Regions from separate parts of the Homo sapiens genome. Here regions 1 and 3 are each linked to region 2. The links come from fine-mapping of genetic effects on gene expression. A gene starts in region 2. Each other region holds a variant in brackets. All regions are shown on one strand. Distances are between the middles of the regions.

What was found.
Region 1: its variant is fine-mapped to the expression of RNASEH2C in whole blood (TOPMed, PIP above 0.99).
Region 3: its variant is fine-mapped to the expression of RNASEH2C in whole blood (INTERVAL, PIP 0.96).

Annotation. Positions count from the first base shown.
Region 1 is chr11:66,009,612-66,017,758 of GRCh38, forward strand. It overlaps CST6 (cystatin E/M), which reads left to right and starts at 2,397. Exons shown (of 3, transcript NM_001323.4): 1 at 2,397-2,673; 2 at 3,215-3,340; 3 at 3,706-3,894. The coding sequence starts at 2,434. The coding sequence ends at 3,789. It overlaps CATSPER1 (cation channel sperm associated 1), which reads right to left. Exons shown (of 12, transcript NM_053054.4): 11 at 7,449-7,563; 12 at 7,141-7,305. The coding sequence ends at 7,279. RefSeq lists an enhancer at 3,879-4,454. The variant C/T (reference allele first, on the strand shown) is at 4,787.
Region 2 is chr11:65,717,505-65,725,679 of GRCh38, forward strand. RNASEH2C (ribonuclease H2 subunit C) reads right to left here and starts at 3,294. Exons shown (of 4, transcript NM_032193.4): 1 at 3,083-3,294; 2 at 2,738-2,913; 3 at 2,541-2,660; 4 at 169-2,305. The coding sequence starts at 3,254. The coding sequence ends at 2,279. KAT5 (lysine acetyltransferase 5) reads left to right here. Exons shown (of 13, transcript NM_182710.3): 11 at 1,086-1,245; 12 at 1,369-1,450; 13 at 1,543-2,100. The coding sequence ends at 1,677. RefSeq lists a silencer at 2,980-3,219 and an enhancer at 3,370-3,439.
Region 3 is chr11:66,026,740-66,034,914 of GRCh38, forward strand. No RefSeq gene overlaps it. Among named protein-coding and RNA genes, the nearest start is that of CATSPER1, 4.3 kb to the left of the region's middle. The variant C/CT (reference allele first, on the strand shown) is at 4,265.

The sequences.
Region 1 (8,147 bases), 290 kb after region 2:
AGCCTCCCGAGTAGCTGGGACCACAGGCGTGCACCACCATGCACAGCTAATTTATTTTAGATTTTTTGGTAGAGACGGCTCACTATGTTGCCCAGGCTGGTCTCAAACTCCTGGCCTCAAGTGATCCTCCTGCTTCCGACTCCCAAAGTCCTGGGATTACAGGTGTGAGCTACCGTGTGATTAATAGATCACCACCTATTAATAATAATCAATTAATTATTGGAGTCTTTTTTTTTTGAGATAGAGTCTTGCTCTGTCACCCAGGCTGGAGTGCAGTGGGTGCCGTCTCAGCTCACTGCAACCTCTGCCTCCCAGGTTCAAGTGATTCACCCACCTCAGCCTCCCAAGTAGCTGAGACTACAGGTGTGCACCACCACACCCAGCTAATTTTTGTATTTTTAGTAGAGATGGGGTGTTGGGAGCCGAAAGGGCCAAAGGGATTGTGACCAACTCAGCATTCCACTGAAGGCTATATGATCAAACAGCCACCTGTTTATCACGAATGCAGGATGTGGGCAAACTCCCACTGCCCTGCCACCAAAAGGTTTGCTGAGGGCCTTACTCCTTGGCACTGGGGTCCCTGAAGTTATCTACTGAGAAAATTAGCACCTATTGTTCAAAGGATGCAGTCTCACAAGCCTGCTGTGAACCAAAGTGCTGACCGACAATTACCTGACATACCCGACAATCACCCTCCCCCTTTCTCGCTATCTCTTTTGCCTACTACATACAGAGGGCTGTGTAAAGCTCAGGGCCCTTGTCCACTAGAGGCAAGGTGCCCCCTGACCCCTTCTTCCAAATATACTCTTTTGTCTCTTGTCTTTTATTCCCACGTTTGCCCGGCTTTGTTCAGTCCCCCTAGGTCCGTGCGGGCTATGATGGGGTTTCACCATGTTGGCCAGGCTGGTCTCGAACTCCTGGCCTCAAGTGATCTGCCCACCTCGGCCTCCCAAAGTGCTGGGATTACAGGCGTGAGCCACCACACCTGGCAATTATTGGAGTCTTTAAAAACACAGTCATGGGCCTTGTTTGCTGGTACCTCCAGCACATGCTCACTGTATCCACGGGACAGCCAGATTCGAAACATCAATATCAGAACAAACTTAGGAGATAAGGTGTCTTTCAGACGAGGGCACGGAGGCTCTGTGTGGGAGGTTGAGGGACTTGCCCAAAGCCATGCCGTCAGTAAGATGGCAGAGCTGACATGACTGACACCCCCTCCTTCTGGGCAGTTTGTGTCCTGTGGGCTCAGTCTGGTTTAAGACCACAGATTTGACTTAGACTGTCAGCACACACAAGCCAGTGTCACCATTTATTTCCTGCCGGTGTCTTTGGGCAAATCCATTTTCCCTTCTCTGTAAAGTGGAAACTATTTTTTTTCTTTTTTCTTTTTTTTTTTTGTGAGACAGAGTCTCTCTCTGTCACCCAGGCTAGAGCGCAGTGGTGCCATTTTGGCTCACTGCAACCTCTGCCTCCCAGGTTCAAGCAATTCCCCTGCCTCAGCCTTCTGAGTAGCTGGGAATTCAGGTGTGTGCCACCACGCCTGGCTAATTTTTGTATTTTTGGTAGAGACGGGGTTTCACCATGTTGGCCAGGCTGGTCTTGAACTCCTGACCTCAAGTGATCTGCCTGCCTCGGCCTCCCAAAGTGCTGGGATTACAAGTGTGAGCCCTCATGCCCGGCCTTCTTTTTTTTTTTTTTTTTTTTTTTTTTTTTTGAGTCAGCGTCTAGCTCTGTCGCCCAGGCTGGAATGCTGCAGTGGTGAGATCACGATTCACTGACTTGAACTCCTTGGCTCAAGTGGTCCTCCCACCTTGGCCTCTCAAAGTGCTGGAATTACAAGCATGCCTAGGTGCCTGGCCAGGTAGAAACATTAGTCACTCGCGCTCCAGGAAGGTTGTCAGGCAGCGCTGAGCAGTAATGTGTCCTACTCACCTGCTGTTTATCCAGCACCAGACCTCTTCTAAGAACTTTACCTGTTTCAGCTCACTGAATCCTCACAACACCCATTGTACAGAAGAGGAAACTGAGGCAGCGAGTGGTTAAGTGACTTCTCCGAGGTTACACAGCTAGGAAATGGTGGCAACAGTAAGAGCCCACGAAGAGCTGCGGTTGGTAGTTCATTCTGGACAGCCCTCCCGTGAACCGTCCCTGTACTGGCACTTGTTGCTGGGGACTGTCGCTGTCCTCTCCCTCCCCGGGCCAGGTGTGTCCTGGAGGGCAGGGAAGCGTCTTGGCACGCGGGTGCGCGCCGCCCCCTCGGCCTCCTGGGCTCCCTGAACCTCGCAGGACCCCGGCAACTTCGAGCCCCGCCCCAGCTCCAGGCCGCGGGGGCGCATCGCGGGCGTCGGGCGGGGCGGCCCAGCGGGTAAAAGCTGCGCGGCCGCAAGCTCGGCACTCACGGCTCTGAGGGCTCCGACGGCACTGACGGCCATGGCGCGTTCGAACCTCCCGCTGGCGCTGGGCCTGGCCCTGGTCGCATTCTGCCTCCTGGCGCTGCCACGCGACGCCCGGGCCCGGCCGCAGGAGCGCATGGTCGGAGAACTCCGGGACCTGTCGCCCGACGACCCGCAGGTGCAGAAGGCGGCGCAGGCGGCCGTGGCCAGCTACAACATGGGCAGCAACAGCATCTACTACTTCCGAGACACGCACATCATCAAGGCGCAGAGCCAGGTGCGGCGGGCGGGGTGCTGGGAGGGGACACCCGGCCCAGATGGGGGAGGCCACAGGCGCTGCCCCAGCGTGCATGAAGGGGGCCTAAAAGCGCAATCGGGATATTTTCATGCAATATTTTAAAAATCGAATTAATGCTAAAACTCCACGATGGACAACCATCTAAATTTCAAGGAAAGACATAATTAAACCCTGTATTGCACTACCTGCCTTCCTGGCTTGCCTGGTCCTAGTCTCTGCCCTGATGGGGTGGATCGGGGAGGAGGGAAGGCAGGTGGGGACAGTGGGCAGCTCCCTAGATGGGGCATGTCTGATGTCTGCCAAGGCTGCTGGTGGGGCTCAGCCTCCAGGCCTCTCCACCCTCCATCCCCACCAGAACTCCCCCCCCCACCCCCCCCCACCCCCCCCCACCCCGTCTGAATCATCCCCTCTCCCTCTCTCCCCACCTGAGTGCCTGGGGGCAACAGGAGAATATATCAAGAGGTGAGAAGTGAGGATCAAGGGTCAAGACCCCTGACCTGCCCCTACCCTATGCCCCCAGCTGGTGGCCGGCATCAAGTACTTCCTGACGATGGAGATGGGGAGCACAGACTGCCGCAAGACCAGGGTCACTGGAGACCACGTCGACCTCACCACTTGCCCCCTGGCAGCAGGGGCGCAGCAGGAGGTAACAGCTGGGCTCCTCCAGCCCCAGCCCTCCCCAGAGCCTCAGGCACTCAGGTTGTCCATCCTGAACTGGTTTGGCTGGACACGTAGATGTCTAGATGTCTGGCTGAACCTGTCGTCCTTCTGGATGAGTCAGCCTCTGGGCCAAGATGGGGTGCAGAAAGGAAGCTGGGGCTTCCCTCGGGAATGGGGAAGTTGGCTACCAAGATCTGGAGTCTAGCCCCAGACATGCGGCTTGACATCCGTTGGGTCAGTGATTGTCCCTCTCTTGGCCTGGAGCAGCCTGGCAGGCAGAGGGCTGGCTGTTGGGAGGAGACAGGTCGAGGCTGGGCTCACCCCTCCTTCTCCCCCATATTCCCTCCACAGAAGCTGCGCTGTGACTTTGAGGTCCTTGTGGTTCCCTGGCAGAACTCCTCTCAGCTCCTAAAGCACAACTGTGTGCAGATGTGATAAGTCCCCGAGGGCGAAGGCCATTGGGTTTGGGGCCATGGTGGAGGGCACTTCAGGTCCGTGGGCCGTATCTGTCACAATAAATGGCCAGTGCTGCTTCTTGCATTGGTTTCTTCCAAGTGCTTCGCTTCTGCCCCCATCCCCCACTCCCACTTCTGGCAGCTCCCAGCTCCCCAGCCCAAGCTGAGAGGTCACCCTGCCACCTGCAGCAGAGCTGCTGCTGTCCCAGCCCAGACAGTGCTGAAGGTGCAGGGCTGAGCCTCCAAATGTGGAGCCCCCAAACACCCCAGCATCACAGGCATAGAGGAACAAACCTTAGAGCCCCCACACACAGCCAGAGACTCCCAATATTCTCAGAGGTCAGGGGTGGCGGCAGACTCACAGAGGAGGGGCGATGGCCTGAGATAAGAACAGGGCCGGCTGCCTGGGAGCACTCTGAGGAGGAGTCTGTGCTGTGCTCCCACTCAGCCCCAGGAGGAGCTCATGGGTGGCATGGGGGGCTTCAATCAGGCAGTGTCCTCACCCAGGACACTGAGCTCCCAGCCTATAAAGATTCCTCCACCTGCATGTGGCCCAACGATGGCAGAGTCCCTGCAGGCCAAGAGACCATGAAGGCTAGGACAGTGCCTCTCAGTCCACACTGTGGGCTCCACGCCACAAGGACGCCTCTCTTGCCTTGCCCTGGGCAAGACGCCTGAAAGGGGCTAGACTAGGAGCCGCAGAGGGACAGAGATTGTCTAGCGCCCACAGGAGGGGTGAGGGGACAGATTCAATGTAATGTCATTTAAAGAAAACAGCATTGCAGCCGGCCTCACACCTGTAATCCCAGCACTTTGGTAGGCTGAGGTGGATGGATCACCTGAGGTCAGGGGTTCAAGACCAGCCTGGTGGCCGGGCGCGGTGACTCACGCCTGTAATCCCAGCACTTTGGGAGGCCGAGGCGGGCAGATCACGAGGTCAGCAGATCGAGACCATCCTGGGTAACACGGTGAAACCC[C/T]GTCTCTACTAAAAATACAAAAAATTAGCTGGGTGTAGTGGCGGGCGCCTGTAGTCCCAGCTACTCGGGAGGCTGAGGCAGGAGAATGGCGTGAACCCGGGAGGTGGAGCTTGCAGTGAGCCGAGATGGCGCCACTGCACTCCAGCCTGGGCGCCAGAGCCAGACTCCATCTCAAAAAAAAAAAAAAAAAAAAAAAAACCAGCCTGGCCAACATGGTGAAATCCCATCTCAACCAAGAATACAAAAATTATCTGGGTGTGGTGGCAGGTGCCTGTAATCTCAGCTACTCAGGAAGCTGAGGTAGGAGAATCGCTTGAATCCAGGAGGCAGAGGTTGCAGTGAGCCGAGATTGCGCCACTGCACTCCAGTCTGGGAGACAGAGCGAGACTCCATCTCAAAAAAATTAAAAATAAAAAAAGAAGAAGAAAACAGCATTGCAACATTTGCACATCTGAATTTGTGGCTGCAATTCATACCCCCCCATACATATACACACGCACACACCCAAAGCACAACACACCAGACATACACACACAGACACCCAGAGCACACACTCAGATGCTGGCAGATATCACATGCATACCCAGAGAAACACAGCCTAGCAACTCATGAGCACAGAAGCAACACACCCTAGAGAAACAACCTGGAGATGTACACACAAAACTCAAACACAACCCAAGGACCCACATGCCACACCCAGAGGTTCCTCAGATGCACAAGCACACACCCACACTTGGGATATGGGCCTTGGGGGTGCTAGGTATAGGCACCATCAGGCCCAGGCAGGCAGCACTGCAGTGGCTGCGGAGAGCATCCCACGGTCCTTCCTTTCTGACAAGGCCTCACACCCTGCTTGTGCCTGCCTGGTCCCCTGCCCAAGGCTGGGGCCTAATAAGCAGCAGCCCCAGCTCCCAGGCCCTGCTGTCGGCCTTTGGAGGCCAGATTGGGGTAGAGACGGGGAAACGGGAAGTAGACCCTGGGTCCCACCTGGGAGTGAGAAGCTGAGGGGTGGCATTTGACAGGAGCTGGGGACCCAGGAGACAACATCCAGCCCTGCTTCTGCTCAAGCTTGTCAGATGTGGCAGCTCAGACAGCCCAGGGTGTGTGCGGGGCCTGCTGCTTGGAAGGGCTCCCATGTGCCACCAAGCAGGGACTCCCAGCATGGGGCAGGCACAGGGTGGGTGGCAGGAAATGCCTGTTGAATGAATGTGTGAGGTGGTGGAGAGAAGCAAGGCCCAGAGACGCCTGCCCGGTGACCTCTCCGCCCCTGGAATCTGTGCCCAAATCCCAGATGGCATTTCCTCCGCATAGTCTATTCCTGGGCCCTGGGCCCTGGGCCAGCCAGTGCCTTCCGCCAGACCAGGGAGGGGAGGTGCTTCTTCTGTCCTGGGACCCTGGAAGCTCCAGCACTGACTGGTCTGGTCCAGAGATGGGAGGGTTGGCAAAAAACTATTGCCCTTCAGCTCCCGCTCCTGACTCCCTCCGGCCTGAACTGCACCCTGGATTCGCCTCTACTAGAGGTGAGATGGCTGTTGTAGATAATGGAAAACCCTCCACTTAAGGAGAGACCCCTGGGGCCAGGGCGAGGCTTGAACTTGACTCAGTGCTAGGTCTCCAGCACCCAGCATAGGCCAGTGTCCCACTGTCACCCCCAGCCATGGGGACAGGGGCTCTGGACATCCAGCCTAGGCTCAGGCTATCAGTCGGGGAGGTCATCTAAGTCCTAGAGCAGGCAATGGGGCGCAGCCTTCAGCCTCATTCCCTGCTTCCCTCTCCCAGCAGCAGGGTCCTCCACACATCCCTGCCCGCCCCTTGCCCTGAGGCCAGAAGGACTTGAGCAGCCCCGACTCCACCTCCCCTCAGTGGGGCTCTAGAGTCTGACCCCAGAAAGGGCAGGATATGGCAATGACCTCCGACCTCTGGGTTCATGATATCCCCATCCGGTTGGTGCTCTTCTACTGGAGCTGAGGGTCCTGGTAGGATTGAGTTCCTGGGCTCTGAGTCCCCATTCCTAGAGCCTATTGGGCCCCCAGGCCCTGGTAACCCTGGGGTGTTCAGGCCTATTCTTTTTCTCCTGACTCTTGGGCCAGATGGGCCTTCCTCCCCAAAGCAGGGTTACTGCCTCCTCGGCCCTCCCGGCACCGCCGGCACCTGAGCTCAGCCCACGTTCTGCTTCATCCCTCCAGCTGCTGCTAATGCCCTGCTGGGCTGAGCTAGCATGCGGGCGCTGGTAGGGCTGGAGGGGATCCAAGAGCAGCTCCTTTCACATGCAACACGGGCACACACTCGTTCGTGTGTGTGCACCAATTCCCTTCCCTGCGCCTTGGCCTAGTCAGTGAGGACATGGAGCCTCCTGGGGTTTAAAAACTCTGTTGGGGCCCCTGCTCTGCAGGGCCCGGACAATCATTCCAGCAGATCTGGGGACCCGTCCCAGTGCACCCAGGTGGGCAGACTGCCAGGGGCTGAAGTCTGTATCTGGTGTCCTCCTGGGGTCAATTCCTGAAGTCCTCTTCTCCAGCCTGCAGGGGTGAGTGGGGCACTGGTGGGTGAATGAGCCAGACTTTGCCTTCCCCGATCCCCATGGGAGTTACTTGGAGCCATTTCTGGCTACAAGCCCCTGGGGTTCCCCTCGCCGGCCCCTTCCCGCTCCTGCCTGGTTCACCTCAAATGTGGTGTCCACAATCTCATCGATGACGGCTGCCTGGGAGCGGAACTTCTGCTGCTCCTGCTCCACGCTTGCCACCAGCTGCAGGTAATGGAACAGGAGCTCCTGCTGCCTGCGGGTGGGCGGGGGGGTCGCAGAGACAGGGGCTGGGCTGACCTGCTGGCTGGGCCTACTGCACCCCAGAACCACCCAGAGGCTCTTCTTGCCTGCCTCCTCCCCACAAAATTTATATGACTGCAGACCTGCATTTCCAGGAGGTCTCCTTTTCCAGATATGAGAAAGAGCCCAAGTCTGCCTGTAGCGCAGAGGCTTCTGGCTTTGTTTATCTTCCTAACCACCCATCCCTCCACCCACCCATTTGTCAGCCCCATTCCTCCCCATACGCCCACTCGACCATCCACCCATCCATCCACCCACCTCCTTATCCAGTCACTCACCCATCTGGCCCTCCAGCCACTCACAACTCACCTCCCCCTCCACCCACCTGCTCTTCCCTGTAGCCACCCCCCACCCACCCATTGACACCTTCATCATGCTGTGTAGTCAGTCACCCACCTGTCCCTCCACCCACTCATCTGCCCACCACATTACCCATTGTCCCATTCACACCCTCCCCGCCATCTTGTCAACCCATTCATCAAAGAACACTGGAAACAATGAACACAGCAAGGTACTCCGAGGAGATGGAGATGAATG
Region 2 (8,175 bases):
TGCCCTCCCCAACCCTGAGGCCCCTTCTTCCCAGCCTCTTACTCCCCATCACCCCCCATTCTGTCTGTCTCACCACTCACTTGGAATAACCAAGCTCTGACCTGAGAAACAAGGAGGAAGTTCTAGCTGTTGACCTGGTGAAGACACAGAGGCTTTACCTGATCAAGGTTATGGTCCATTCGAGAAATTTTATTGGTTAAATGATGCCCAGATGGGGTCACATCCTCAGAACTTCTCAGCCTGGTAGCACAAGTGGATGCTTGAAGAAACTCAGTCTTGGAACTCAGACAGCAATGGAGACGGGATGTGAGTGGGACCAGCAAGGGGCTAAGGTCCATTATGAGGGTGAGGAAGGGCTTCTAGAAGTAACAAACATCCCAGGTCCCTGACTGGGGAGAATGAAGACACTGACCAAGAGATGTGAAGCCACTCAGGGCTGTGCAGGGTCTGAGGATCTCACTGGGGACGGCCTCCCAGCGGCCAGCTATCAGCACGAGTTGGAGGGAAAGAGCCATGGTGGGGGTCAGTCACGTGGCTCCCAGGAATGGTCTCCCCGACTTAGGAAGCACCTTGGTGCACCTTTTCTCCTTGCATCCTCACAACCACCCAGTCAGGCCACTCAAGTCTTACAGCAGGTGACACTCCCAAGGTCCCAGCTAGGAGGACTTTGAGAATTCAAGCATTCTCAGGTCTGGATTAGAGACAGGAATCTGTCTCCACTTCCTTACATGGCTAGACACAGAGCCCGGGATGGCAAAGGAAAATTGGAGGCCCCTTCTTCCCATGAGCCATTTTCTCTGCATCCCCTGCCCATAAGCCTTCACTGGCCTCTGATCACCCTCATGGTTGACTGCAGCTGCTCCTCTCAGTGCCCTCATGCCCTCCACTGTGCTCAGCGCACGGAAAGAGTGAATACTCAGTTCTTCCTGAGGGAACTGAGGCACAGAGAAGTGGAGGGCATAGAACTGCCAAGTGGCAGGGCCATGATAGGAACTAGGCAGCCTGCCTTGGCAACCTGTGTTTTTAAATGTTGCTTATGTTCATCTGTGACCTCTTACTCACCCTCTCCTGCTCCATTGCTTTAGGCTATGAACTCTCCAAAGTGGAAGGGAAAACAGGGACCCCTGAGAAGCCCCTCTCAGACCTTGGCCTCCTATCCTATCGAAGCTACTGGTCCCAGACCATCCTGGAGATCCTGATGGGGCTGAAGTCGGAGAGCGGGGAGAGGCCACAGATCACCATCAAGTGAGCCTGGCGCTGTCTACCTGGGGGTACATGGCATGGCTTGTCTGTTCCTGGGCTTTCTCTCTCAGGGCTCCTGGGGACAGATAAAGGTCCTCAGGGAACCTGACCTGTGCTCTCCCACAGTGAGATTAGTGAAATCACCAGCATCAAGAAGGAGGATGTCATCTCCACTCTGCAGTACCTCAATCTCATCAACTACTACAAGGTAGGGAGGCAGGCAGGGGAGACAGGTGTGTGGGATGCAGAGTGCAGTCCTCTGTGGGCTGACCACCTGCTGAACCCATCTCCTCTGCCCAGGGCCAGTACATCCTCACACTGTCAGAGGACATCGTGGATGGCCATGAGCGGGCCATGCTCAAGCGGCTCCTGCGGATCGACTCCAAGTGTCTGCACTTCACTCCCAAGGACTGGAGCAAGAGGGGGAAGTGGTGACCAGACACTGCCCACTGCAGTGCCAAGACGGCAGCAGGACTGGGGCTGATAGCCCACCCCGCCCCCACTGCAGCTCCCACAAAGCACTCTAAGGGAGATGGGGCTGAGGACAGCTCAAAAAGGAGAGGACAGGCCTGGCAGGGGCCCACTGGTGCCCAGCACCAAGGCGAGCTCCGGGCTCAGACCAACTCCAAGGTCAGCTGGCCACAGGCCCAGGCCTCCTCTGAAGCAGGGACCAGAGGGAGCCAGGCAGCTGTGTACAGTGAGAAGGGATCCGGATGGGGGAGCTCTGTACAGAGGGCTGGTGATTGTAAAAATTTCTTTTGTAAAGTAGAAGTTGGGGGTGGGGTGGGTGCTGGCTGCAAAAATTTCTGGCTTCTCTTACCCCTATTGCCCCCGGCAATAAATTGTTTCTATATGCCAGAGCCATGCAAAGTTCTTGGTGGGGAGGGGGAAAGGGCCCATGCTGGCTTAGGGGCTCTAAGGCGCCCAGACTCACAGGTGCTGTGAAGAGCTCCTTTATTGGGGTGATGGAATCGGTTCCAAAGAGCTGGTTTACTGCTGTGAAGGGATCGCAGCTTTGAATTTCAAGCTCTGGTTCTCAGTCCTCGGGCACCTGTGCGTGAATCTGCAACAGGAGTCGCCTCTACTGTTGGACTTGTAAGACAGGGCGGCAAGCTGGCCCCCATACCCGAGGAAGGACCCAGCTGTTCAGAATAACCGCTTCTAGACATGCTAGGAAGAGTGGTCAGGGAGCTACGCTTCCCACACACTACCCAGTAGAATCCTCCAGGCTCCGTCTGCGCAATTGTGCTCCCCAGCCCATCCACCCGGGGGCAAGACGGAACTCCTCGTCTACTCACCGCTGCCGCAAGGCTGGGCCAAGTTAAGGCCCCACGCACTTTGGCATCCGGGCCAGGGATGGTCTCCAGACCCCACAGGGTGAAGCGGCTGAAGTTGGCAGTGGCTCCAATGAAGCGGTCCTGGGGAAGGGGCCTGGCTCAGCATCGGGACTACAGCTCCCGCCCGCACCCCCTTTCAACCCTATCCCTTTGCTCACGAAGTCCCGCTCCAGCGGCTCCTCCTCTTGGTCGTCAGTCCCGGAATCCCGCAAGGGGTCTGGCTTCCCCATCGACACCTTCTTCTCTTCTGTCACCATCACGTATCCCACGAGGCCAGGCGGCACCGCCACCTCCTCTCCCCGTAGACAGCGGCCCCGAAACGACACTTCGAGTCCTGGAGCGGGAGGCGCAAAGGGCCTCAGGCAGGACCCACGCTGGGTCGAGCCCGGAGCTGCCCTCCCGCCACCTCCGGACGGACCACGATCCCCAGGAGCCCAGGCGATGAGAAGCGCGCAGGCCGGCGCGGGGGCTGCCGGGAGCCGTAGTCCGGCCGCAGGGCTCACCCTCGGGGCCCTGGCGGATGGCGGGCGTGAAGAAGCGCCCCACCGGGGCGGGCCCGTCCACCGCAACCTCGCAGGGCAGCAGATGCAGTGTGGCGGGTACGGCGTCGCGCAATGTGGCGGAGCGCAAGTGGACGCGGTGCCTCTCGATGGCCGCTTCGTCGCCGCTCTCCATCCTCCCTCCTACGCGACGCCAGGGCTCGCGAGCTGACACTGAAGCTGGCGCGGAAAGCGCGCAGGACCTCTCAGGAAGCCTCCGCGGGGCCTCACGGGAAGCCGCCGCGGAGCTTCACGGGAAGTGTAGTCCCCTTACCCCCTAACGCTTTCCCTGGGTTCAAGTCCTAGGGTTTTCCAGTTGTGTTTTGTTTTTTTCCTTCCTTCCTTCCCCCCTCCCCTCTTTCCTCCCTCCCCTCTCCCCCTCTCCTTCCCCCTCCCCCCTCCTTCCCCCTCCCCCCTCCCCCTCCTCCCTGCCTCCCTTCCTTCCCCCCTTCCCTTCCCTTCCTTCCCGTCCTTCCCTCTTTCTTTCTTTTTCTTATTTATTATTATTTTTTTTTGACAGAGTCTCGTTTTGTCGCCCAGGCTGGAGTGCCAGGCACGGTCTCAGCTCACTGCAACCTCCGCCTCCCGGGTTCAAGCGATTCTCCTGCCTCAGCCTCCGGAGTAGCTGGGATTACAGGCGCACACCACCATGCCCACCTAATTTTTGTATTTTTAGTAGAGACTGGGTTTCGCCATGTTGGCCAGGCTGGTCTCGAACTCCTGACCTCAGGCGATCCTCCAGCCTCGGCCTTCTGAAGTACTTGGATTACAGGCGTGAGACACCGCCCCCAGCCGGGTTTTTTTCTTTTATTGTTTTTAATGGCACATGTCGTTGTAAAAATCTAAAACGATTCTGAAAAGTACTCTTTTTATATTGATTAGTAGGTAGGTTATTCATTTTTAGTTTATTAGGGACATCAACCCTTTTCTTAAATGCATTGAAAATGTTTTATCTGTGGTCTGTCTTGCAAACCTGTGTAAAGGTGATTTTTGCTGGACAAGGACTTATTTTTGTGGTTGTTTGGTCTTTTAGACAAGGTCTCACTCGCCTAGGCTGGAGTGCAGTGGTTTGATTGGCTCACTGCAGCCTCGACCTCCCAGGCTTAATCCATCCCCCATCCTCAGCTTCCTGTGTAGCTGGAACCACAGGCCTGCGCCACCACGCAGCTAATTTTTGTATTTTTGGTAGAGGTGGAGTTTTGCCATGTTGCCCAGGCTGGTCTTGAACTCCTGGACTCAAGTGATCTGCCCACCTTGGCCTCCCAAATCACGCTGGAATTACAGGCGTGAGCCACTGCACCCAGGACAAAGACTAATTTTTTGTAGTCAAATTTATCAACACTTTTCAGTCTTTTAGATTTCACAATTTTCTCTCTTTGGTTTCTCAGCTCTTCTCTAATGTTTATTTGTTCAGACACCCAACTTAGATATATTTTTTCAAGTTCTCACATAAAACAAACACAAAACTGGAAATTTAGATTTAAATTGCGTTTAATTTATACATCCCTGCACATCTGGGAGCTGGCCTTGGTATTCTGTTGAATATAAACAATTTCAGAGAACATCAGCATCGGACAAGGTCACTCTGTGACCGTGAGGGAGCAAGACAGAAACAGAACCACTCCATCGTCACATCTGAATGCTGGCAAAGGTGAACACTGTCCAAACCACAAAAGGCATGAAACATCCCTCTTTCTCCCATAAGAGAGTGACTGTTGTTTCCTTACCAATTACAGCATTAGCCTCCAACTAATCTTCTCTCCTTCTGGGCAAGACTCATTAAGATAGTCCGTCATAGACATACCCCCACCTCTGACAGCATCCAAGCCAGAGAGAAGCCTGGCTTCCCTAAACCCTGACTGAAATCACTGAACATGGGCACAAATCCTCCTATAAGTCCTTTCTAGCACCCTCTTATTGAAATTCCCCAGAGTGCAGGAGTAATATACCCAATTTGTTCAACTGCAGATGTATTCCTGGTGCTCTTTCACTAGAGTGGCAGATTAATTTAGAAAAAGGCTTGCTTTAGTTTTCTATCAGGAAAGACATAATTCAATTTATTCACATCTCCTTGGATATCTGTACAGTTGTGAGGTTTTGTTCATATATAATAGCTATTAATACATATTGTAAAGTTTATTTCTTCTTAGCTTATATTAATAATTGTTTCTATTAAGAACTGAGGGGCTGGGCATGATGATTCACACCTGTAATTCCAGTGCTTTAGGAGGCCAAGATGGGGGAGGATTGCTTGAAGCCAGGAGTTTGAGACCGGCCTGGGAAACATAGCAAGACTCCGTTCCTACAAAGAAAAAAATTTTTTTAAACATGAGTGGGGCACAGTGGCATGTGCCTGTAGTCCCAGCTACTCAAGAAGCTAAGGTGGGAAGATCACTTAAGCCAAGGAGTTTGAGGCTGCCGTTCGAGTCACGATTGCACCACTGCACACCAGCCTGGGTTACGGAGGGAGACCCTTTCTCTAAAAACCAAAATTGGGGCTTTTATTTTTTTCATTTTATTTTCTAACTGATTTTCTTTTTAATCTATAGCAGGGGTTGGCAAACTTTTTCTGTAAGGGGTCAAATAGTAAATATTTTAGGTTTTGTGGACTTTATGGCTTCTGTCGCAGCTACTCAACTTCACCGTTATAGCATGAAAGCAGTCATAGACAATACATAAATGAATGAGCGTTGTTGTGTTCCAGTAAATCTTTGCAGAAACAGACAAGGGGTTGGATTTGAACCACAGGCCATAGTTTTCAGACCCCTTGTCTATAGCAAACCTGTTGATTTTTATATGTCCATTTTTAAACTAGATATCGACTGAATTATTTTGTTCCTAATGATTTTTATTTTATTTTAAGATCCCCAGAATTAGTCACCTCTCTTTCAAATAATAATTTTTACCTCACCATTACATCTTCTTTTTGTTTTTTGTTTTTTGTTTTTTTTTTTTCATTACACCTTGTAATTTGTTTTCTTTTCTAATTGCCTTGGCCAGTACTTGCAGAACAGTCTCTCAAATGTTACTGGTATCAGAGGACAACATTGTCTTTTTCCTGAAACTTTCACGGGAGTGCTTCTGCTGTTTCACCAATAATCATGAAACTGCCTTTTGACTTGTTATATATGTCTCATTAAAGCTGTACTACTAAGAGCTTTTAAAAATTGGGAGTAGATGTTGGATCTTATTTTTTATTTTTATGTTTTTGGTTTTGCAAGTTTCCTGTAGTCTGGATATTAGTAATTGCATTCCTATAGTGTCAAGGTAATCTATACCTGTATTTTCTGTAATTACATCTAGAAGCTTAATTCGATTCTTTGGGGAGGGGAGAGGGCAAGACTACTTCATGGGTGGTTTTGTGTTTTTCCCTCTTTTTGTGAGGTTAGCAGCCATAGATGATCATTGCCTAGATCCTTTAATTCATTAGAGGTTAAAACGCGTGTGTACGCGCACACACACACACACACACACATATTTTTGGGACAGAGTCTCACCTGGTAGCCCAGGCTGGAGCGCGGTGGCGCGATCTTGGCTCACTCAGCTCAACCTCTGTCTCCCGGGTTCAAGCAATTCTCCTGCCTTGGCCTCCTGAGTAGCTGGGATTACAGGCGCATGCCACCATGCCAGGCTAATTTTTGTATTTTTAGTAGAGATGGGGTTTTACCATGTTGGCCAGGCTGGTCTCCAAATCCTTACCTCAAGTGATCTGCTCCCCTCCCTTGGGCTCCCAAAGTGCTGGGATCACAGGCGTGAGGCATGGTGCCCAGCCTAAAACTGATATTCTAAGTCCTCTCATTTCTTCTTCATTTACTAGCTGAAATAGGTCTATAAAGAAAAACTCTCCCCATCAGCCATTTGATTGCCTGTTGGTACAGTGAGGATAAGAAAGACAAAATAATTAGGCCGGGCACAGTGGCTCACACCTGTAATCCCAGCACTTTGGGAAGCTGAGGTGGGTGGATCACTTGAGGTCAGGAGTTCGGGACCAGCCTGGCCAACACGGTGAAACCTTATCTCTACTAAAAAATACAAAAATTAGCCGGGCGTGGTGGCGCATGCCTGTAATCCCAGCTACTCAGGAGGCTGAGGCAGGAGAACTGCTTGAACCCGGGAGGTGGAGGTTGCAGTGAACTGAGATCGAGCCACTGCACTCCAGCCTGGGTGACAGAGCGAGACTGCATCTCAAAAAAATCCTTTTATTTTCCAGTTCTTAAAATAATGATTTGTTGCCCTAGCATATTCCAATGGTGACCTTTTAAAAATGTTAAATAAATATTAAATAAATAAATATAAATAAAAATAATAAATAATGGATTAACACTTTTATGTTTCACATAATTGTGGTTATTATTCTTACTGAGGTGCAAATTTCCCCATCTTCTGCCAGTGGAAGCCTCTTCAAGTTATCTCCTGAATCTTTCGATATGACCCTAGTGATCTTTTATACATATCTTTGTTTTCCAGTACCACAAGATGTTCCTGGCTCATCTTGTACATTTCCTGCCCCAGACTTGGAATTATACATCTCTCCAAAGATCGCTGGTTCCCTTCAGTGGGAAATGATATTTAGTAATCCAATCTGATACTAGATGTATTCATTGCTACTGAGTTAGCCTTTGTTTCTAGATATTTCCAGTGGACAAAGCTAGGAAATACGCATTTTTTTCCTCTCCTTTTTTTTTTTTTTTTTTTTGAGACAGAGTCCGCTCTGTCAGCCAGGCTGGAGTGCAGTGGCACAATCTCGGCTCACTGCAACCTCCGTCTCCTGGGCTCAAGCAATTCTCCTGATTCTCCTGCCTCAGCCTCCCGAGTAGCTGGGATTACAGGCGCCCACCACCATGCCCGGCTGATTTTTTTATATTTATTTATTTATTTTTGAGACGCAGTCTCACTCTGTCAGCCAGGTTGGAGTGCAATGGTGAGATCTCGGCTCACTGCAACCTCTGCCTCCCAGGTTCAAGCAATTCTCCTGCCTCAGCCTCCCGAGTAGCTGGGACTACAGGCGCCCGCCACCACGCCCGGCTAATTCTTTGTGTGTTTAGTAGAGACGGGGT
Region 3 (8,175 bases), 310 kb after region 2:
CTTTAGCCCTGTTGTTGGAAAGAAAATGGTCCAAGTGGTCCAGTCTTCAGTCCCATCTAGAGATCAGCTGGCTCTGGGGTGAAGACTGCCTGACTCCCTCATAAGTAGGTGTGTGACCTTGGGCTTGTTGCTGAACTTTCCCGTGCCTCAGTTTCTTCCTCTGTAAAATGGGAATAATAATACCTAGCCCACAGGATCAAAAAAGTTAAGATATGTAAGCCTTATATTAACAGCATAATACATGGTTTTTGTTGTTGTTGTTGTTGTTTGTTTCTTTGTTTGTTTTTGAGATGGAGTCTCGCTCTGTCGCCCAGGCTGGAGTGCAGTGGCACGATCTTGACTCACTGCAACCTCCACCTCCCAGCTTCATGCCATTTTCCTGCCTCAGCCTCCCAAGTAGCTGGGACTACAGGCGCCCACCACCACGCCCGGCTAACTTTTTCTATTTTTAGTAGAGACGGGGTTTCACCATGTTAGCCAGAATGGTCTTGATCTCCTGACCTCGTGATCCGCCTGCCTTGCCCTTCCAAAGTGTTGGGATTACAGGTGTGAGCCACTGCGCCCAGCCCATGTTTTTTTGTTTTTGTTTTTGTTTTTTGAGACAGTCTCACTGTCACCCAGGCTGGAGTGCAGCGGCATGATCTCCACTCATGGCAATCTCTGCCTCCCAGGTTCAAGTGAGCCTCCTGCCTTAGCCCCCTGAGTAGCTGGGATTACAGCCACCCACCACCATACCCCACCCCGGCTAATTTTTTTTTTTTTTTTTTTGAGACAGAGTCTTACTCTGTCACTAGGCTGGAGTGCCGGGGTGCAATCTTGGCTCACTGCAATCTCTGCCTCCTGGGTTCAGGCAATTCTCCTGCCTCAGCTTTCCTAGTAGCTGCGACTACAGGTGCACACCACACCCAGCTAATTTTTGTATTTTTAGTAGAGACGGGGTTTCACCATGTTGACGAGGCTGCTCTTGAACTCCTGACCTCAAATGATCCACCCACCTCGCACTCCCTAAGTGCTGGGATTTCAGGTGTGAGCCACCATGCCTGGCCAATACATGTTAATTGGCATTATTATTCTCTTCTTGATCTTGGAACCCCCCTTTAGGGTTATTACCAAAATTAAACTATCAGCCATCATTTATTGAGGATTGCTTCATACACATTTTGTTTTCTTTCTTTCTTTTTTTTTTTTTGAGACACAGTCTTGCTCTGTCACCTAGGGTGGAGTGCAGTGGCATGGTCTCAGCTCACAGCAACCTCCACCTCCTGAATTCAAGCAATTCTCCTGCCTCAGTCTCCCAAGTAGCTGAAAGTACAGGCGTGCACCACTACGCCCAGCTAACTTCTTTTGTATTTTAGTAGAGATGGGGTTTCACCCTGTTGGTCAGGCTGGTCTCGAACTCCTGATCTCAAACGATCTGCCCGCCTCGACAACCCAAAGTGCTGGGATTACAGGCATGCGCCACCGTGCCCGGCCCATACACATTAAATTTAATCCTCACAATAGCCCCACATGGTAGATATTGTTTATCCCCATTTGACAGACAAAGGTGCTATGGCTCAGAGAATATAAATGAGTTGCTTGATGAATGAAAACTTACCGTCAGTGCTATCTCACTCCAAGTCTGTATCTGTAACCTTCATGCTGTCCTGTCTTCCTCCTGGAATCCACTGCAGAGCTTGCCCTGTATGCTGAATTCATATGTGCACAGCGCAGCTCTTCTGGAAGCTTATGGGTCTCAGCTTCTTGAGTGCTTGGTCAGAGCCATGTCCATAGTGGCTGCTGGGTTCCCAGTGATGAAAGAGACACGGCTCCTGTTTTAAGGAGCTCACTATCTGTTGCCAGCAGCAGACAAAGAAACAATTTGTGTGGGCTGGGCATGGTGGCTCACACCTGTAATCCCAGCACTTTGGGAGGCCAAGGCGGGTGGATCGCCTGAGCTCAGGAGTTTGAGACCAGCCTGGGCAACATGGTGAAACCCTGTCTCTACTAAAATACAAAAAATTAGCTGGATGTGGTGGTGTGCGCCTGTAGTCCCAGCTGCTTGGGAACTTGGGAGGCTGAGGCATGAGAATTGCTTGAGCCCAGGAGGCGGAGGTTGCAGTGAGCTGAGATCACACCATTCCAACAAGAGCGAAACTCCATCTCAAAAAAAAAAAAGAAAGAAAGAAAGAAAAAGAGAAGACTCTACCCTGAGAGAGAACAACAACCTCACATGTTGATGACATGATCTCTGATACTGAACAGGTTTTCGTTTTTGTTTTCTTGATAATAAACTGAAAAACAACTTGCTTTTTTTTTTTTTTTTTTTTGAGACAGAGTCTCCCTCTGTCGCCCAGGCTGGAGTGCAGTGGCGCGATCTTGGCTCACTGCAATGCCGCCTCCTGGGTTCACGCCATTCTCCTGCCTCAGCCTCCCGAGTAGCTGGGACTACAGAAGCCCGCCACCACGCCCGGCTAATTTTTTGTATATTTAGTAGAGATGGGGTTTCACCATGTTAGCCAGGATGGTCTTGATCTCCTGACCTCGTGATCCGCCCGCCTCAGCCTCCCAAAGTGCTGGGATTACAGGCGTGAGCCACCACACCCGGCCACAACATAATCTTTATCCTGGCTGATGAGTCAACTTATTTCACCAATAAAATGGTGAATGCTTACCACGCCATAGCACTAGTAAGATCTGTAAATGGTCAGCATGATCATCGAGAAAATGTTTCAGCTTTTCCAAACAAACAAAAAGCCAAGATAGATTTAATGTCATTTCATATCAGGAATCATCAAAAAGTCTGTCTTGGAAGAACTACCTTGGCATTTATACTGATGGTTCAAATCAGTGGTTAGCTCCATAAGAATTTTTACTGTTCTTGGAAAGAAACAAAACCACAAACAAAAACTTGATGTTGTCACAACACACTGCTTTCTTCACAGAGAGGCACTGGTGTCAGAAACTCTTGGAGATGAAAAGTAATGATGGAGCAAAACGTTTGCCTTTATTCAACAAAGACTCACTCACTTGAAAATGTTTTAAAAACTGGCCAGGCAGGCTGGGCGCAGTGGCTCATGCCTGTAATCCTAGCACTTTGGGAGGCCGAGGTGGGTGGATCAGGAGGTCAGGAGATCAAGACCATCCTGGCTAACACAGTGAAACCCCATCTCTACTAAAAATGCAAAAAATTAGCCGGGCGTGGTGGCGGGCGCCTGTAGTCCCAGTTACTTGGGAGGCTGAGGCAGGAGAATGGCGTGAACCCGGGAGGCGGAGCTTGCAGTGAGCCGAGATGGCGCCACTGCACTCCAGCCTGGGTAACAGAGCGAGACTCCGTCTCAAAAAAATATATAAAATAAAATTTAAAAAATGTGGCCAGGCAGGCTGGGCGTGGTGGCTCACGACTGTAATCCCAGAACTTTGGGAGGCTGAGGCAGGAGGATCACCTGAGGTCAGGAGTTCGAGACCAGTCTGGCCAACATGGTGAAACCCTGTCTCTACTAAAAATACAAAAATTAGCTGGGTGTGGTGGCGGGTGCCTCTAATCCCAGCTACTTGGGAGGCCAAGGTGGGAGAATCGCTTGATCCTGGGAGGCGGAGGTTGCAGTGAGCCGACATGGTGCCACTGCACTCCAGCCTGGGCAACAGTGCTGGGATTACAGGCGTGAGCCACCAAGACTGGCAATATATTTGTTTTTAATTTTAAAAACTAAAAGAAAAGCCGGCATGGTGGCTCATGCCTATAATCCTAGAACTTTGGGAGGCCGAGGCAGGTGAATCACTTGAGGCTAGTAATCCGAGACCAGCCCGGCCAATATAGCAAAACCCTAGCTCTACTAAAAATACAAAAACAAAAACAAAATGCAGCTGGGCATGATGGTGGGAGCCTGTAGTCCCAGCTATTCAGGAGGCTGAGACCTGAGAACTGCTTGATCCCAGAAGGTGGAGGTTATAGTAAGCCAAGATCGTGCCACTGCACTCCAGCCTGGGTGACAGAGCAAGACTCTGTCTCGGAAAAAAAAAAAAAAAAACTTAGAAAAACTGAAATGAATTAAAAGCACTGTATAAAAACATAGACAAGGCATTCTTTTTTTTTTTTCCTTTTTGAGATAGAGTTTCACTTTTGTTGCCCAGGCTGGAATGCAATGATGCGATCTTGGCTCACTGCAACCTCTGCCTCCCAGGTTCAAGTTCTCCTGCCTCAGCCTCCCGAGTAGCTGGGATTATAGGCATGAGCTACTGCGCCTGGCCTGAGCACAGCCATTTTCTTTTCTTTTCTTTCTTT[C/CT]TTTTTTTTTTTTTTTGAGACGGAGTTTCGTTCTGTCGCCCAGGCTAGAGTGCAGTGACACGATCTCGGCTCACCTCAACCTCCACCTCCCAGGTTCAAGGGATTCTCCTGCCTCAGCCTCCCGAGTAGCTGGGACTACAGGCGCCCGCCACTAGGCCTAGCTAATTTTTTTGTATTTTTTTGGTAGAGACAGGATTTCACCGTGTTAGCCAAGATGGTCTCCATCTCCTGACCTCAAGTGATCCGTCTGCCTCGGCCTCCCAAAGTGCTGGGATTACAGGTGTGAGCCACCGCGCCCGGCCAATTGAGCACAGCCATTTTCTAGCACACGCAGACATCTGGTGGTGGAGCACTCTGTATGGGACCATTGAGAAAGCCTGGGTCTGGCCAGGTAAAGAGGCTGACACAATCTACAGCATGAGTCATCCCATCTCATCACCGAGGGCTGCTGCACCGATGGCTCTCTGATGGGCACTTCATATGGGAATCTTCCCACCCTGTGACTATTTTGAGAAGCTGGCCACAGTCCTGTCTCCTAGGCCATCAGATTGCCAGTTGTGCTCTTTCAAAGTCTCTGCAGCTGGCCAGCCTATCAGATGCTGCTCACCAGTCCATGTAAATCTGTACCTTAGGCCACCTTTCCTCCACAGAAAGCATCCACAGATGTATTGCCCCAAAGTTCCACCCACTGGGAGAATTTTCCTTCACCACTGTCTGTAACCTCAAACTCCTGAGCTCAAGCAATTCTCCCTCCCCCTTTAGCCTCCCAAGTAGCTGGTACTACAGGTATGCACCATCACACCTGGCTAATTTTTAAACCTTGTTTTTGTAAAGACTGGGTCTCACTATGTTGACCAGGCTGGTGTGAAACTCCTGGGCTCAAGTGATCCTCTCATCTCAGCCTCCTAGAATGCTGGGATTACAGGCATAAATCACCATGCTTGGCGCTCTTGTCTTGTCTGTCTGTCCCTCCCTTCCTTCCTTCCTTCCTTCCCTCCTTTTCTTTTTGCTTTTTTTTTTTTTTTTTTTGACGGAGTTTTGCTCTTGTTACCCAGGCTGGAGTACAATGATGCAGTCTCGGCTTGCTGCAACCTCCACCTCCCGGGTTCAAGCAATTCTCCTGCCTCAGCCTCCCAAGTAGCTGGGATTACAGGTGCCCACCACCACGACCCGCTAATTCTTGTATTTGTAGTAGAGTCGAGGTTTCGCCATGTTGGCTGGGCTGGTCTTGAACTCCTGACCTCAGGTGATCCACCCGCCTTGTGCTCCCAAAGTGCTGAGATTACAGGCGTGAACCACCAAGCCCAGCCTCTTTTCTTTTTTTAAAAAAACTGAGTTTCGGCCGGGCACGGTGGCTCACGCCTGTAATCCCAGCACTTTGGGAGGCCAAGGTGGGTGGATCACGAGGTCAGGAGATCGAGACCATCCTGGCTAACACGGCGAAACCCCGTCTCTACTAAAAATACAAAAAAAATAGCTGGGCGTGATGGCAGGCGCCTGTAGTCCCAGCTACGCGGGAGGCTGAGGCAGGAGAATGGCGTGAACCCGGGAGGCGGAGCTTGCAGTGAGCCAAGATTGCGCCACTGCACTCCCACCTGGGTGACAGAGCGAGACTCCGTCTCAAAAAAAAAACAAAAACAAAAACTGAGTTTCACTGTGTTGCACAGGCTAGAGTGCAGTGGCGCAATCTTGGCTCGCTGCAACCTCTGCCTCCCAGGTTCAAGCAATTCTCCTGCCTCAGCCTCCCAAGTAGCTGGGATTACAGGCACCTGCCCTGACGCCCAGCAAATCTGACGCCCAGCAAATCTTTGTATTTTTAGTAGAGACAGGATTTCACCATGTTGGCCAGGCTGGTCTCGAACTCCTGACCTCAAGTAATCTGCCTGCCTTGGCCTCCCAAAGTGCTGGGATTACAGGCATGAGCCACCGTGCCTGGCCCCTCCAGTGTTTTCTTAAATCCAGGCTAGAGGTCAGCAAACTCCTTCCACGAAGTGGTAAATGTCTTAGGCTTTGGATGCCATATGATCTTATTGCAGTTACCCAACTCTGCCAGTGTAGAGCATAAACAGCATTAGACAAGAAGTAAATGCATGAATGTGGCTGTGTTCCAATAAAACTTTATTTACAAAAACAGGTGGTAAGCCAGATTTGCTTGTAGTTTGCTCATCCCTGGTCTAGACAGTCAACAAATCAATAAAACCTCTGATGTATAATGTTTGTTGATTTGTAGTGTAAATACTCTCACGATGGCTGATTTCAGGCTATCAATGTAACACCACCAAGTGCTGTCCTGGAAGAGATAGGCAGTAAATAACACACTACTGGCTGGGCACAGTGGCTCACACCTGTAATCCAGCATTTTGGGAGGCCAACGCCTGCAGATCGCTTGAGCTCAGGAGTTTGAGACTAGCCTGGGTAACATAGTAAGACCCTGTCTACTAAAAAAAAAGATTTAGCCTGACAGAGTGGCACCAGGGATGCCAGGCTGAGGTGGGAGGATCACCTGAGCCCAGGGAGGTCAAGCCTGCAGTAAGCCAAGATCTCACCACTGTACTCATCTGGGCAACGGAAGTGAAACCCTGTCTCAAAAAAAAAAAAAAAAAAAGTAAATTGTAGTAAACTAATTAGTAAGTGATGAGTTTTGAGTATTTATCGTCTTTATTACTTATTTATTATTTTTTTGAGACGCAGTCTCACTCTGTCGCCCAGGCTGTAGTGCAGTGGTGCAATCTTGGCTCACTGCAACCTCCACCTCCCGGGTTCAAGTGATTCTCCTGCCTCAGCCTCCTGAGTAGCTGGTATTATAGGCGCACGCCACCATGCCTGGCTAATTTTTGTATTTTTAGTAGAGACGGGGCTTCATCATGTTGGTCAGGCTGGTCTGGAACTCCTGACCTCGTGATCCGCTCGCCTCGGCCTCTCAAAGTGCTGGGATTACAGGTGCGAGCCACTGAGCCCGGCCTATTGTCTTTATTATTTATACAATTTATTTAATTGTAATTTTATACAATTTAATTTTTTTTTCTTTTTGCACCAGAGTCTTGCTCTGTCGCCCAGCCTGGCGTGCAGTGGTATGATCTTGGCTCACTGTAACCTCCACCTCCCGGGTTCAAGCAATTCTCCTGCCTCAGCCTCCTGAGTAGCTGGGATTACAGGCACGTGCCACCACGCCCAACTAAGTTTTCTATTTTTAGTAGAGATGGGATTTCACCATGTTGGCCAGGCTAGTCTCAAACTCCTGACCTCAAGTGATCCACCTGCCTCGACCTCCCAAAATGCTGGGATTACAGGCGTGAGCCACCACGCCCAAGGAAAATTTAATTTTTAATAATGGTTGTGTCCAACAACTGGCTTGCACAATTCAGCTTTCTTTTTTTTTTTTTTTTTTTTCTTTTGAGACGAAATCTCGCTCTGTTGCCCAGGCTGGAGTGCAGTGGCGCGATCTTGGCTCACTGCAAGCTCTGCCTCCCAGGTTCACGTCATTCTCCTGCCTCAGCCTCCCAAGTAACTGGGACTTCAGGCGCCCGCCACCACGCCCGGCTAATTTTTTGCATTTTTAATAGAGATGGGGTTTCACCGTGTTAGCCAGGATGGTCTCCATCTCCTGACCTTGTGATCCGCCCGCCTCCGCCTCCCAAAGTGCTGGGATTACAGGCATGAGCCACCGTGCCCGGCCACAATTCAGCTTTCAAGAGCCAATAAGAGGCTGACCTGACATACCGTTGTGTTCAGGGAATGGAATGTAATCCAGTGTGGCTGGAATATGATGGCGTAGGGGGCAATGGGAGATGTAGGTGGAAGGTTTTGGGGATCAGATTAGGTTGGCGTGGGGAGAGGTGGTTTCAAACAGGGGAGTGAAAGGATCATATTGCTTTAACAAGGATCACCCTGAATACAGAGTGGGAAGCACG